3 separate regions of the Homo sapiens genome follow, and all the other regions are linked to region 2. The links come from fine-mapping of genetic effects on gene expression. A gene starts in region 2. Each other region holds a variant in brackets. All regions are shown on one strand. Distances are between the middles of the regions. Region 1 overlaps LOC105376299 (a long non-coding RNA gene). Region 2 holds the start of FAM78A (family with sequence similarity 78 member A). Region 3 overlaps PLPP7 (phospholipid phosphatase 7 (inactive)).

What was found.
Region 1: its variant is fine-mapped to the expression of FAM78A in left ventricle (GTEx, PIP 0.98).
Region 3: its variant is fine-mapped to the expression of FAM78A in whole blood (TOPMed, PIP above 0.99).

The regions. Positions count from the first base shown.
Region 1 is chr9:131,332,925-131,338,140 of GRCh38, reverse strand. All of the region lies in intron 1 of LOC105376299 (a long non-coding RNA gene), which reads right to left. Among named protein-coding and RNA genes, the nearest start is that of PLPP7, 46 kb to the right of the region's middle. The variant G/T (reference allele first, on the strand shown) is at 3,240.
Region 2 is chr9:131,274,001-131,279,216 of GRCh38, reverse strand. It overlaps FAM78A (family with sequence similarity 78 member A), which reads left to right and starts at 2,707. Exons shown (of 2, transcript NM_033387.4): 1 at 2,707-3,360. The coding sequence starts at 3,038. RefSeq lists enhancers at 898-997, 3,178-3,677, 3,838-3,887, 3,918-3,967, 3,380-3,992 and 3 more and a silencer at 1,358-2,537.
Region 3 is chr9:131,302,301-131,307,516 of GRCh38, reverse strand. The region is part of intron 1 of PLPP7 (phospholipid phosphatase 7 (inactive)); the gene reads right to left. Among named protein-coding and RNA genes, the nearest start is that of PLPP7, 15 kb to the right of the region's middle. The variant G/A (reference allele first, on the strand shown) is at 2,234.

The sequences.
Region 1 (5,216 bases), 59 kb before region 2:
ATTATAGGCATGCACCACCATGCCTGGCGAATTTTTATATTTTTAGTAGAGACGAGATTTCACCATGTTGGCCAGGCTGGTCTCGAACTCCTGACCTCAAGTGATCCACTTGCCTTGGCCTCCCAAAGTGCTGGGATTACAGGCATGAGCCAATACGCCTGCCCCCCTCCTTTTGATTTTAATTTCATATTTTTGAGATGGAGTCTTACTCTGTGGCCCAGGCTGGAGTGCAGTGGTGTGATCCTAGCTCACTGCAGCCTCAAACTTCTGGGCTGAAGTGATCCTCCTGCCTCAGCCTTCGGAGTGTCTGGGACCATGGCATGTGGTGCCACCACACCCGGCTAGTTTTATGTTGTTATTGAGACAGAGTCTTCCTATGTTGCTCAGGCTGATCTCAAACTCCTGGGCTCCTCCCACTTCAGCCTCCTAAAGTGTTGGGATTACAGGCGTGAGCCACTGCACCGGGCCACATTTCCCCTTTTTATAAGGACACCGGTCATATTGGATTAGGGTCTCACCCCCCGATGACCGCATCTTAACCCGGTTACCTCGGTAAAGACCACATGAGGTCACATTCTGAGGGACTGGAGGTTAGAACATCAGCATATTTTTTTGGGGACGCACAATTCACCCCTTAACAGCCTGTAAGCAAAGACAACTTGGTAGCAGCGAGCACAGCAAGCTCTCAGATCCTGGGGCATTTGCTGCTGGCCTTCCTCAGGTCAAAAGATCTGATGCTGCCCCTACTCCACTCACACATCCAGCTGAGGCCCAGGGGTTGCAAAAGCCTGGACTGGAGGGTGTGAGGACCTTTCACGAACGCCGCCTACCCTGAGCTAGCTGGGGGTCCCTGTGCATTACGCAGTCAGGCTGGAGCCCTGGCCCCAGCGGCAGGTGTCAGATTAGAGAAAGAGGGGCTGTAGCTAGGCCAGCTCCCTCATGTTGCAGATGAGGAAACTGAGCTCAGGGGATGTGGGCTGATCTTGGACCACAGAGGATGTTAGTGTTGGGGCCGCACTGGGATCAGGTCTTCCGAGCTCTCCCACCCCTCTCTGCCACCCGCAGCTTGGACACTCCTTGCTCTGGGAGGCCTCCATGGCCACCTGGGCCAGGGCCCTTCATTACGCATCCTACTGCACTGATCGTGACACACAGCCCCTCTCCCCTCATCTCCTCCGGCCCCCATCGCTCCGCGCTGACCCCACTGACCTCTCGCTCTTCCTTGAACTGGCACAGGCCTTCGCTGGCCTCCCAGGTCTCTGCAAAGATCTCTCCCTCACTGCTTCGGGTATTTCCTCAAAGGTGGGCTCCCTGGCCATCGCATCTCAAACACAAGCCTCCTGCTGGCTCTTCCTAGTTCCTCTCCGTAGCTCTTACCACCGGAAAGTTTTGTGATCCTGTTTACAGAGGAGGACTCTGGAGCTCAGGGAGGGTGTGGCTTGTGCAGGCCACTGAGAGGGCAGGACCAGGACCCAGACTTGACTGTCACATTGATGCCCAAACCAGGCAGTGCTGCCCTTTGAGCCTCCAAAGGGAAGGGAATGGGTCTCATTCTCTTTGTCCTCCTTCGCCGTACCATGCTGGTGCATATGTAATAAGGGCCATGAATTTAACTTGATCAGAAAGGGCACATTTTGGACTCCAACTTGGGATAGGAAAGCTCCCTGGCCACCTGAGTTGGATGCCCCTGCAATGACCACCTTTTCCCACTAGAGGGCGCTGTAGGACAGAAACTCAGCCGAGAGTGGCCCTGACAGCCGGGTCCATTGAGACCAGCCTGGACAGCCAGGGCTCCCAAGGCTCGCCCTTCAGGACAGCTGCCTCACTGGGTCCTTATAGCAAAACCAGAAATGAAGTACCATTACCATCCCCACTTTACACATTAAGAAATCGAGGACCAGCCTGGCCAACATGGTGAAACCCCGTCTCTACTAAAAATAGAGAGAAACCCCATCTCTACTTGGAAGGCTGAGGCATAAGAATCACTTGAACCTGGGAGGCGGATGTTGCAGTGAGCCAAGATCGAGCCACTATACTCCAGCCTGGGCGACAGAGTAAGACTCTGTCTCAAAAAAAAAAAAAAAAAAAAAAAGGCCAGGCACGGGTGGCTCACGCCTGTAATCCCAGCACTCTGGGAGGCCGAGGCAGGCAGATCACGAGGTCAGGAGATCGAGACCATCCTGGCTAACACAGTGAAACCCCATCTCTACTAACAAATACAAAAAATTAGCCGGGTGTGGTGGTGGATGCCTGTAGTCCCAGCTACTCGGGAGGCTGAGGCAGGAGAATGGCGTGAATCCGGGAGGCGGAGCTTGCAGTGAGCCGAAATCGTGCCACCCACTGCACTCCAGCCTGGGCGACAGAGCGAGAGTCTGTCTCAAAAAAAAAAAAAAAAAAAAAAAGAAAGGAAAGAAAAGAAAAAAGAAACCAAGGCTCAGGCCGAGCAGTGTGTGGCTCATGCCTGTAGTCCCAGCACTTTGGGAGGCTGAGGCCAGAGGATGGCTTCAGCACAGGAGTTGAGGCCAGCCTCGGCAACATGGTGAGACCCCCGTGTCTACAAAAACAAATACAAATGTTAGCTGGGTGTGGTGGCACAGGCCTATAGTCGCAGCTACTCAGGAGGCTGATGTGGGAGGATTGCTTGAGCCCAGGAGGTCAAGGCTGCAGTGAGCTATGATTGTGCCACTGTGTTCCAGCCTGGGTGACAGAATGACACCTTGTTTCAAAAAGAAAGAGAGAGAGAGAGAGAGAGGGAGGGAGGGAGGGAAGAAGGAGAAAAGAAAAGAAAAGAAAAGAAGGAAGGAAGGAAGGAACCAAGGCTTAGTGTTGATAAGGGATTTGTCCCAAGTGAGCACCTTAGAAATGGGAGAACCAGGGCTGCAACTCAGCTCCCATCCCAAACCCACACTGTTGGCTGCTCAAACCCCTTCCCTCTCCCAGGCTGCTTGGCTCTGTCTTTCCTCCTGGATCCCTTCTAGGAAGGGTCCCTTCAGCTCGGTGAGATTTGCCCAATATGCTCAGCAGTGGGTTGGGGGGCTCCCCCACATTAATTTGTTCTGGGAGACTCTGGGCTGTGGGGCTGCTAGGGGGCACCTGGAGAAGGAGTAGGGGTGGGGCTGTGTTGCCATGGGGAGGGGGATCCGGGCCGCAGGGCTGGGAGTCCTTCTGTTCCAGCCCCTGGCAGAGCCGGCCCCCTGGGAACCGGCCAGGCTTATTAATATCCTGCTGAGTCAGGGGGC[G/T]CTTGAGTTTCGGCATCACAAGACCCAGAGGCTGAGCACTGCAGGGATATTCTTAACTCCCCAGGCACCCTCTCCCTCCCACCGGCCCTGCCCACCCCTGGCTGGGGCCTTGCAGGCCTGAGTTGCCACGTGGCCTGGGGTAAAGCACTTCCCCGGACTGTGAAATGGAGACAAGAACTGTCCTGCCCCGGCTGTAATTAGACAGTGTTCCTAAACGGTTTGATGTATGCGAAGGGCTAAGAAGCAAGAGCTGTCCTGGAAAATGCTTTTTTTTTTTTTTTTTTTTTTTTTTGAGACGGAATCTCGCTCTGTTGCCCAGGCTGGAGTGCAGGGGCGTGATCTCAGCTCACTGTGACCTCTGTCTCCAGAGTGCAAGCCATTCTTCTGCCTCAGCTGGAATTACAGGCGCCCACCACCACGCCCGGCTAATTTTTGTATTTTTAGTAAAGACGGGGTTTCACTATGTTGGCCAGGCTGTTCTCAAACTCCTGTCGTCAGGTGATCCTCCTGCCTCAGCCTCCCAAGTGCTGAAATTACAGGCATGAACCACCGCACCTGGCCTAGAAAATGCTTTTTTGAGGACCTGCTACACAGGGGCCCTGGCCTGGAGGCTGGGGTCCTACAGCAAGGGGTGGCGCAGCCCCTCTCTTACAGAGCTCACTGCCTGCACCCACAGGCCCCCGCCAGCAGCCTCAGCTGAGTGGGCTCGGCCAGGGCTGGACACAAGCTGGGCCTGGGTTTGAGCTCTCCTGGCCATTTGGAATCGGGTCTGGGAGACTCTGGTCACATGGGGTGGGCTCTGTCTAACTGGAAGAGAAACTGGACTTGGGGTGAGGGATCCATGAGGGGCAGCCATGATAGCAGAGGGGGCTGGTCTGCAGAGGATGGAATGAGGCACATGCACAAAAGCCCGGGGCCCCAGGAGAGAGGCTCCCCTGCTCCCAGCTCTGCCCCTTGCACCCTCTTCCCAGCCCAGGTTCCAGGAAGCTGCCCTGTGTCCTCAGACACTGCCCTCATGGCTACTCCCAACCCACACAGCCCTGCAGAGGCAGGTGGAGGGGAGAGCACTTCTTCATCTCCGGGCCCTTGGGATTCCAGCAGTCATGGTTTTTGTGTTTTTTTGTTTTTGTTTTTGTTTTTGAGACAGGGTCTTGCTCTGTTGCCTAGTCTTGTCTTGAACTCCTGGGCTCAAGGGATCCTTCCTCGTTGGCCTCCCAAAGCACTGGGAGCCAGTGTCATGGTTTAAAAACCGTTTACAGGGCTAGGTGTGGTGGCTCACGCCTGTAATCCCGGCACTTTGGGAGGCCGAGGCGGACAGATCACGAGGTCAGGAGATTGAGATCATCCTGGTTAACACAGTGAAACCCCATCTCTACTAAAAATACAAAAAATCAGCTGGGCGTGGTGGCACATGCCTGTAATCCCAGCTAGTGTCTTTCTCTGTCACCCAAGCTGGAGTGCACTAGTTGGGAGGCTGAGGCAGGAGAATCGCTTAAACCTGGGAGGCAGAGGTTACAGTGAGCCGAGACTGCACCACTGCACTCCAGCCTGGGCGACAGAGTGAGACTCTCTCAAAAACAAAAACAAAAACAAAAACAAAACAAAAAAAACCACATTTACATGCCGGGTGTGGTGGCTTGTGCCTATAATCCCAGGACTTTGGAAGGCCGAGGTAGGTGAATCACTTGAGGTCAGGAGTTCGAGACCAGCCAGTCCAACATGGTGAAACCCTGTCTCTACTAAAAATACAAAAATAAGTTGGGCATGCTGGTGGGGGCCTGTAATCTCAGCTACTTGGGAGGCTAAGGCAGGAGAATCACTTGAACCCAGCAGGTGGAAGTTGCAGTGAGCTGAGATCACACCACCACACTCCAGCTTGGGTGACAGAGAAAGACACTATCTAAAAAAAACAAAAACAAAACATTTACTGAGGGCTTACCAGTCCCCAAGCCCATTTTGCGTGCAATATGTGTGCCA
Region 2 (5,216 bases):
TACTGTGTCCAACAGGCCAAGGGGGCCATCTCTGTGGCCCTGCCTTGGCCCGAGTCAGTGGGACTAGGAATAAGCCACCTACTAGCTGAACTGGAAAGGGACCACCTCCTCATTAGCTGGGGATACGGGCCATAGCAGTGCTGGGGTGAGGGTGTGGCTGGGTGAGAGGCGGAGGCCACCCTAGCCAGCCACTTCCTGCTCCATGGCTGAGCCGGTGCTGCTGTGAGATGTCCTGGTTGTTAACCCCTCAAAGGAGAGATCCAAGAGTGGCCAGCCCCTCGGTCCCTCCAGCCCTGCCCTCACACACTCAGCGTGCTCCGGCTCTGGGACTGGCTGGAAGCACCTGCCCTGTGCCGGCTGTGGGCACCTGTGGAAGTCAGAGTCATGGGGATGGGGTGGGGACGAAGAGCGTGGCTTTAATGTAGCTGCCAGATGTACTTATGTCACAAATTGCTTGGGCTTTCCCTACGGCTGGCTGGAAGGTAGGGGTGGGGTTCATAGCTCTCCCATGGCTGTACAGCCTCATGCTCCTTTTGAGCCCCTGCACTGGGACCCCTGCGGGGGGACGGGGGGAAGGACCTTGGGCAAATCCCCTAGCCTCTCAGCTCTGGGTGCCTGCTCTGTGAAGTGCACATCATCAGTCTCCCTCCACAGGGAGGCCGATGGTGGCTGAAATGATGCTCTGTACAGCGCTCATCACACAGCCGGGGTCCAACAGGCAGCCAGCAGACCTGCTCGAGGGGACCCACCTCTCCCCAAACTGCTCTCCCCTCCCCGCGACCTTCCCAGCCTTGGAGCCTACAAAGCCCCCGCGCTGTCTCCACCAAGCCACTGTCTCCCTGCGGTCAGGAACCCCAGGGCAAGGGAGCCCTTCTGCGGGTGCTCCGAACCCCAGAAAGCCTCTGGTCCATAGAGTTCAAAGGGCACTGGGAGCAGCCCACCTGGCCCCGAGACAGCAGCGGAACTACACTACCCAGAATTCCCGGGGCTGGCCAAAAAGGAAATGTCGTTTGTTCAAGGAGAGGCTCAGCTCCCCGAGCAGCTGCAGAGACAGGGAGCGAGGGGGAGCGAGGGATTACCAGGGGGAGGGCGGGCTGTGTGCGGGGAGCGAGGGTGGAGAGCCAGGCGGGCGGGGAGGAGGAGGCGGCGCCCGCCCGCCGCCGCCGCCGCCGCCTGCGGACCTGCATCCCCGCGGGGCCGGCGAGCGGGCGGCGGTCCCTGCGTGCGCCGGCTGCGCTCGGCCGGCGGCGGCGGCGAGCGGACGCGGGGGCCGGGCCGGCGCAGGGGCCGAGTTTCTGCAAAGTTTGACCCGGTTGCCTTTCCGATGCTGCAGCAGAGCGAGGCAGCGCGGGGCGCGCCAGGCGGCAGCGGCGCGGCGGCGGGGCTGAGCGGCGACAGCGCGCTCACAATGATCATAAAATAAAGGAGGCGCGCGGGGTGGGGGCGAGAGAGCCCCGAGCCTCAGCCCTCCGCCCCCGGCCGCCCCCCCGAAGCCCCAAGCCGGGAGGAGGGTGGGGGCCGGGGGCGCCCACGCCGGCCCCAGACTCCAGTAGAGCCAAGGGACAGTGCCCGGGGAAGGGGGTGGGGGCGCCCCAAGAACGTGCCCGCGGCCGGGTCAGGGGCGTCCGGAGAGCGGCTGCCCGGGCCAGCGGAGTGGCCCCCGGGGCAGGTGAGTCGGCGGCGCCGCCCGAGTGGGGGCGTGCGCGCCAAAGTTCCCCGGCAGCGGCGAGCGCGCCCGACGCGTGGGGACCCGGGGCTGCTCGCGGCTGGAGAGGGGCGACAGAGGCGCTTGACGCGGCGGAGCGGGGGCACTATGCCCTCCGAGGGCCGAGGGACCCCAGCCGGGAAAGGGGTGCCCGCCGGATCCGACGGCACTGGTGGGTGGCCCTGCGCCCAGGGAGCCGGAGGGACCGGGGTGGGGAAGGGGCACCTGGCGCTGGCGGCGCGGCGGTGGGGACAGAGCAGGGCAAGTGCTCGCCGCCCCCTGCAGCGGCAGCCGCTCGCCCCCCACCCCGCCCGTCCGGGACGGTATCAGCGGAGATGTCACGGGCGGCTATTATTCGCTGGTGCGCGCGGTCGTGCGGCCGCCACTGACGGGGCGGGCGCGGGGGGCGGGGGCCACCGCCTCCGGGGAGACCGCCCAGAGCTGCGCCGTCAGCTCCGCAGCCCGCGCCCAGCGCACACGCGTCGCCGCCCCCGCGCGCCCCCCGCAGCAAAGTTCGGCTTAACTTTGAGGCTGGCCTTGACGCGCTGTCCCTTCCACCTCCCACCAGGTCCTCGGCGGCCGCGGCGAAGCAGGCGGCGGCGGCCGGAGCGCAGCCCCGGGACCCTGCACGGCGGCCGGCAGCGACAGCGGCGAAGGGACGCGGCGCCCCTGCGTGGGGACGTCCGGCCCGCGCCCGCGAGTGGGCGCCGACGGGGACCCGCGCCGCGCTCCCCCGTCACCGGCGAGCGGCCGGAGCCCTGAGCTCGCCTCCTGGAAGCCGCGGGTCGGCGCTCGCCCCGAGGGCGCCGGGACCTCGGCCGGGTGAACACAAACTGCTCTGCAATTGATTCGACCGCGCCGGGCGGGTGCGGGTGCGGGGCCCGGAGGGAGCGCGTGCGGAAGGCCGGAGGGCAGGAAGTCAGGCTTCTGCCGCGAGGGTGGCGCGGCCGCGCGGGGACAGAGCCTTCCTTATTTATGAGTCTGCCGGCGCTCGCCTGCTTCCTCCGAAGACTTCAGGGAGAGTCTGCGAGCTGCCGTCCCCGCGTGTGAGGCACAGAAGGGCTGGATGTCAGAACCGCATAATTATTCATTAAACTACAAACTTTTTTTAACCCAAAGAATATCGGTGATTTTTGTCCACTGCGAGGAGAAGAAGAGAGAGCCCAGGGCTCATGAAATGCAGCAGAATCCTTATTTATAAACAGGCCGCGGTAGTGATATATGCAACCCCAGTCTACTCAGTGAGTTTTCTATCCTATGGATATCGGTCTTGAGAGTTGAGATTGGAGAGCAGCGCCGTCTGTACTGGGTCCTGCAGCCTCTGTCCTTTCAATGCCTGGTTTTTTCTGTGACTGCTGGCCTTCCCTGGAGATCAGAGCGCTCCTGTATGCCATGGGCTGTATTCAGAGCATCGGAGGCAAAGCCAGAGTCTTCCGGGAAGGGATCACGGTGATTGATGTGAAAGCCTCCATCGACCCCGTCCCCACTAGCATCGATGAGTCCTCCAGCGTGGTGCTCCGCTACCGGACACCCCACTTCCGGGCCTCGGCCCAGGTGGTCATGCCGCCCATCCCCAAGAAGGAGACTTGGGTAGTTGGCTGGATCCAGGCGTGCAGCCACATGGAGTTCTACAACCAGTACGGCGAGCAGGGCATGTGAGTACGGCCGAGAGCCAGCTCTGGGAACTGCTAGGGATGGCCGAGCTTGGAGGCCTGGTGGGGGGCCGCGGATAGGGGGAAGGTGGAGATACCATGAAGACAGGACGGAGGCCAGAGGGAAGCTTTAGGCAGGTATGCAGGTGGCCTCATTGGCCCGGTGGCTCCCTGAAAAGTTTGCCTGTGGATCCAGATTGGAGTCACGGTCCTGCAATCTACCCTGCCACTGTTCCCCCCGGGTTCCTGTGTCCTTCCCTGCAAGATGCCGAGAAAGCAGAGAGACATTACTCCCAGTGTTTCCTGGCAGAGCAAGTGTGCCGTCCGCCTGAGGAGTGTCTGTGCCATCAGGGGTCACCAGAGAGGCTGCAGGGCTGCCCTCCAGGCCTCTGGCCCTGTGCGGGCCCATGGCAGACATTCAGGCACTCTGCAACTCCCAGACCGGTGTGTTCAGGGCTTTGCGATTGGGCCTCAATTATCTTTCTGGCTTTTACCAGTGTATGCCAGGAGCTGGGGGAGTGCTTCCCCGTTCCAAACGGCACTGTGTTTGAGAGCACAGTTAGTTTTAGAAGCCCGATTTCTTCACAGTGTATCGCTTTCTGTCTCCAAGGCAGAAGACCGCTTTATGCAGACAAGTCCAGTGTCCCTCTGGCGAGGCCCTAACAGGAACAGCAAAGAGGAGCCTCTCCTCTGCAGCCCCAAAGCCCGGTCTCCAGAGTGTGCCTAGGGTATTGGGGGTCCCGGTGAGGACCCTGGGACCCTGGGGCTCCTTTCCTGGCCTGCTTCCTGACCCCAGAGAAGGCCGTCCCCAGGGTGAAAAGAGCTGCATTTAGGCAGAGTTGGGAGAGTGACTTAATCTGAAGGTTCACCCTAAGACAGGGATGGTGAAAATAGCTGTTTCTGAGCGTAAGGACCCTTTGGAGAGAGCTAGGCAGGCCCCGGCGGGCAGCCCACCCATGCGGCCCCGTGACTGGCCGCTGACACTCCCAGAACCTCTCTCAGTGTCTACCCTGTGGCCCCGTGACTGGCCGCTGACACTCCCAGAGCCTCTCTCAGTGTCTACCCTGTGCAGCTTCACGTCCCCGTTTTGCAAGTGGGGAAAAGAGGAGAATTTCCCCAGGAGCTGGAACTTATCACAGATTTAAGAATCTCATGGGCCACCTGTAAATGAGAGGGGTGGAGGATGGCGGGACACCAAGTCTGGTGGCTTCTCTACTTAATGACTCCAAAGTTCTAAAGGAAACATGAGGATCACAGTAACCCTTAAGTCCAGCGTGTGACAGTGACTGTCCCAAAGAGGTACATGGGGGGCACATCTAGAGGCTCTCACCGGCCCTCTCCACCAGCCTGATTTCTGTGCCAACCCCTTTGTGTCTCAAGAGCAGCTAGTAATCCAGTTCGGGGGAGGGGGTGCTGCCTTTCTGTTCTAAGCAGGGAAACATGATTCTTAGTTATGCAGTGAGGACCTTTTCTAAGAACGCTTAAGCCCAGAAACCTCCTCGGGCTTTGAAGGCATCGGGACAGTTGTAGAAACAAAAGTTTTCCTCGGGGTTTTGGGCTAAGCCTAGTTTCTTCCCTGGAAGGGGTAAGGAAGCCAGTGGGTTCTTCTGAACTTGGAAAGACATGAGCACTCACGGGACTGGATGCTAATGTGGTTGGTGCAACGTGTGGTGGGGAGGCCACAGGCCTGACCCAAGGTACAGACTCCAAGCCTCAGCTTCCCCATCTGTGCACATGGGCTTCCGATGTCTTGTCTAAGACTTGTTCTCCATCTGGTGACCCTGAGTAGGTGTGGGTGATGTGGCTGGAGCTAGGCCTGAGACTGGGACCTGAGACAACCCTGCCCTCCCTGTCGCAGT
Region 3 (5,216 bases), 28 kb before region 2:
GCAGAGGTGAGATCTTGGCTCACTGGAACCTCCGCCTCCCGGATTCAAGCGATTCTCCTGCCTCGGCCTCCTGAGTAGCTGGGATTACAGGCACCCACCACCACGTCCAGCTAATTTTTGTACTTTCAGTAGAGATGGGGCTTTGCCATGTTGGACAGACTGGTCTCAAACTCCTGACCTCAGGTGATCCACCCGCCTCAGCCTCCCATTGTGCTGGGATTACAGGTATGAGCCACTGCGCCCGGCCCTTTTTCCTTTTTTTTTTTTTTTTGATACAGGGTCTTGCTCTATTGCCCAGGCTGTAGTGCAGTGGCCTGATCTTGGCTCACTGCAACCTCCACCTCCTGGGTTCAAGGAATTCTCATACTTCAGCCTCCCGAGTAGCTGGGATTACAGGTGCACACTACCATGCTTGGCTAATTTTTTGTATTTTTGGTAGAGATGGGGTTTTGCCATGTTGGCCAGGCTGGTCTCCAACTCCTGGCCTCAGGTGACCTGCCCGCCTCAGCCTCCCCAAGTGTTCACCCATTACAGGCGTGAGCCACTGTGCCCAGCCCCATTCCCATTTTTCAAAAATTGAAGCAAAATTTACATCTTGTACAGTGAACCATTTTAGAGTGCACGCTTCAGCGGCATTCAGCACATCACAATGTCAGCAGCCACCTCCTCTCTCTAATTTCAAAACATTTCATCATCCCAAAAGAATGCCCCATACCCACGAAGCAGCCACTCCCCATCCCCTTCTCTCCAGCCCCTGGGACACCACCAATCTGCTTTCCTCTAGAGGATTTGCCTCCTCTAGACACTCCATGTAAATGGAATCAGACAGCATGTGGCCTTTTGTGTCTGCCTTCCTTTCCTTAGCATAATGTTTCCAGCATCCACCCATGTGGCAGCGCTTCATTCCTTTTCATGGCCGAATAATATTCCACTGTATGGATGGACCACTATTTGTTCATCTTCTCTTTCTTTTTTTTTTTGAGATGGAGTCTCGTTCTGTTGCCCAGGCTGGAGTGTGGTGGCATGATCTCGGCTCACTGCCCACCTCCCGGGTTCACGTGATTTTCGTGCCTCAGCCTCCTGAGTAGCTGGGATTACAGGCGCACGCTGCCTCGCCTGGCTAATTTTTGTATTTTTAGTAGAGACGGGGCTTTGCCATGTTGGCCAGGCTGGTCTCAAACTCCTGACCTCAAGTGATCCGCTTGCCTTGGCCTCCCAAAGTGCTGGGATTACAGACATGAGCCACCGCGCCCGGCCTCTTTATTTTATTTGATTTTTTTGAGACAGAGTCTCGCTCAGTCATCCAGGCTGGAGTGCAGTGGTGCCATCTCGGCTCACTGCAAGCTCCGCCTCCTGGGTTCACGCCATTCTCCTGCCTCAGCCTCCTGAGTAGCTGGGACTACAGGCGCCTGCCACTACGCCTGGCTAATTTTTTGTATTTTTAGTAGAGACGGGGTTTCATCGTGTTAGCCAGGATGGTCTCGATCTCCTGACCTCGCGATCCGCCCGTCTTGGCCTCCCAAAGTGCTGGGATTACAGGCGTGAGCCACCGCACCTGGTGTTTTTTTTTTAAGAGACGGATGTCTCTGGCTGGGCACGGTGGGTCACACTTATAATCCCAGCACTTTGGGAGGCTGAGATGAGCATATTGCTTGAGCCCAGGAGTCCGAGACTAGCCTGGGCAACATGGCAAAACCCTGTTTGTACAAAAAATACAAAAATTAGACATGTGTGATGGCATACGCCTGTAGTTTCAGCTATCAGGAGGCTGAGGTGGGAGGATTGCTTAAGCCCAGGAGTCTGAGACCAGCATGGGCAACATGGCAAAACCCCATCTCTACAAAAAAATACAAAAATTAGCTGAGTGTGGTGGTGCACGCCTCTCATCCCAGCTACCCAGGAGGCTAAGGTGACAGAGTGAGACCCTGTCTTAAAAAGAGAGAGAGAGGGAAACAGAGAGACAGAGATGGTGTCTCTTTCTGTTGCCCAGGCTGGAGTGTAGTGGTGCAATCATAACTCACTGTAACTTTGAATTCCTGGGCTCGAGAGATCCTCCTCCCTCAGTCTCCTGAGCCACCGAGACTACAAGTGTGCCACCATGCCCAGCTAATTAAAAAAAAATTTTTTTTTTACAGATGGGCATCCCACTTTGCTGCCTAAGATGGTCTCAAACTCCTGGCTTCAAGCTATCTTCCTACCTCAGCCTCCCAAAGTGCTGGGATTCCAGGCGTGA[G/A]CCACTGTGCCCGGCCACAATTTGTTTATCCATTCATCTATTGATGGCTATCGAGTTGTTTGCGCCTTTCGGCTGCCGTGACTCATGCTGCTATGCACGTGTGTGCAAGTGTTTGCCGAGTGCCTGTTTTCAGTTCTTTTGGTAGATCCCTAGGACTGGAGTCGCTGGTTGGTAATGACAGTAACTCTGTGTGTGACTCTTTGAGGAACCCCACTGTTTTCCCCAGCAACTGCGCTGTGTCATTCCCCCCTTTATAGAGGACAAGATGAACCCCTGGAGCTCAGAGCACTCATACCTGAGGCTCTTGCTTTCTGGAATGTTCCACTCTTTCCCAACTCACCACCTCAGGGACCTGCCCCGGCCTTCCAGACAGCTCAGGCCCTGAATGGTTCAGTCTCAACATCTGGCCCTCTGTTTCGTGGCTTTTCCCCCGCAGTCACTGAGGCATCTGTTGGGAGGTGAGGGTTCGCTGTCTGCGGCATGAAGTCATCACTTCGTGGAGGCAGGGGCTGTGCCTGTTTGTTCATAGGTTTTTTTCCCCGTGGCTAGAAACAGAGCCACAGTCTCCAAACGTAGTTGAGTTACTGGCCTGAGGCTCATAACCAGCGAGGTGGGCTCTTTCCTTCCTTTTCTTTTTCTTTATTTTTTTGAGACAGAGTCTCACTCTGTCACCCAGGCTGGAGTACTGCAGCATGATCTTGGCTCACTGCAATCTCCGCCTTCCGGGTTCAAGTGATTCTCCTGCCTCAGCCTCCCGAGTAGCCAGGACAACAGGTACCTGACACCACGGCTGGCTAATTTCTGTATTTTTAGTAGAGACGGGGTTTCGCCATGTTGGCCAGGCTGGTCTCGAACTCCTGACCTCAAGGGATCTGCCCACCTCCGCCTCCCAAAAAGTGCTGGGATTCCAGGCGTGAGCCACTGCGCCTGGCCTTTCTTTCCCCATTTCGGAAACACAGGGGAGACCTGGATCTCCATCGTGTCTCTGCCACACCCTGCTGTGTGGCCTTGGGGGGCTGCTCCGCCTTTCTGTGCCGAGAGAGGAAGGCACCATGCCAGGACCCCAGTTTCACCCAGCTGATCTGAGTGGCACCCAGACCGCCAATGTGGGGGTTCCAGGTCAACCCTCCACACCCTTAGAAAGGCCCTTGGGGCTCACACCCTCTGACCTGGGGGTGGGGGTGGCATCAGCAGGCCAGACAGCACCCCCAGGGCAGGTACAGAGTCGGCAGGGAGCCCGTGCCCCTGCCCCCTGTGCTTCCCCATCTCAGGTGACCTTGGGGACCCCAGTGAGGTCACAGCTCCTGCAAGCCCTGCCTCACGGACAGTGAAGACAACACCCACAGTGCAGTGTGGTGGCAAAGCTCACAGGCATCACAGCCAGAGACCCAGCTGTGAGCTCCAGCCCTGGAGCCTCCCAGCTGTGTGACCTCAGGCAAACCACCTAACTTTCCTCACCTGTGAGACGAAGCTCAGGGACACCCACCTCCCAGAGGGGGCCAGGCACCATGCCTGCAGGCAGGTTGCTGACTGCAGGGTGACAAGGTTTCACTGGGACAGAGGGGTTTCCTAGGACACAAGATATTCAGTGCTAAAGCATGGAAGTCGCAGCAAATGATTGAGTTGGTCCCCCAAACGCCTGGCCCACCAGGAGGGCTGGATAAAGGTGGGGGGTTATGACTCAATGACAGTTCAGTGCAGCCAGATGCTGGGAGCTTTCCTAGAAAACTTTTCAGTATTTATCGGAATGTTCAGCTCTTGGCAGAAATGGAAAAAAAGTAAAAAAAAAAAAAAAGACACAGAAGATGCTATTCACTGCAGAACATTTACAAAACAGAAAACAAAAGTTAGAGTTTAAATCACCTGTAATCCTGCCCCTCAGAGGTAGTCATTGTTCCAGACCTTTCCATCCACTTATAGAGCACAGCTTTTTTTTTTTTTTTTTTTTTTTAAGACAGAGTTTCCCTCTTGTTGCCCAGGCTGGAGTGCAATGGTGTGATCTCGGCTCACCACAACCTCCGCTTCCCAGGTTCAAGCGATTCTCCTGCCTCAGCCTCCCGAGTAGCTGGGATTACAAGTGTGTGCTACCACGCCCAGCTAATTTTTCTATTTTTAGTAGAGATGGAGTTTCTCCATGTTGGTCAGCCTGGTCTTGAACTCCCGACCTCAGGTGATCCGCGCACCTCAGCCTCCCAAAGTGCTGGGATTACAGGCGTGAGCCACCGTGCCCGGCCTTTGGAGCATAGATTTAATAAAGCTTGTAACATGGTTTGCATATGTTGTTCTGCTGCCTGCTTTTGAAAGTCTTGCACCATCACATACCCCCGATCCCCTTGCTGCAGGGTGTGAGGCACTGTGGTGCACCTAACTGTCCATGCCAGGCAGTTAGACTGTTCCAGATCACGCAGTCCTCCCTGGAGGACTAGAACTTCAGGGCTTCCCCTTTTCCTGCCCACTTCAGGGTTGCTGCTTGTAGTCTGGTCTCTCTGTTTGGGGTTTGAATCGTGGCATCTCCTGGCCCCTCTCATTAGCCACAGGGCTGGCTGAGAGCCTTGCACCCTGGAAGTGCCTGGCCAGCACAGGAGGGGGCTGAGCAGGTACACAGAGGAGCTGGCTGGCCCAAGGAGGGCGGGGCCTGAAGGCCTCGAGAAAACCTTGCTCTACCCTTGCCTGCCAATTTCACGGCAGCTGTTCCCCTGGGCTGGGTCTTCCCAGGAGGTGGCTGGGGAGGCGTGTGGCTGGCCAGCTCGTGTGCTGACCATGCCCGGGTTTCGTGCCATCTGAAGCCTGTGGGAGGTCACAGTTCCAGCAGGAGAGAGGGACTGGGGACTGCCAGGTCCCCAGGGCAGGCGGGAGAGGGAGGTAGCTGTGCTGACCTTGGCATCCCTTCGCCCCATGAAGCAGCTGAGGAAGCCAGCTTAGAGGGGCCAGCTGGTCCTCTCCAGCCCAGGGAGCCCTCTCATCTGCAAGCCCCACCACTTCC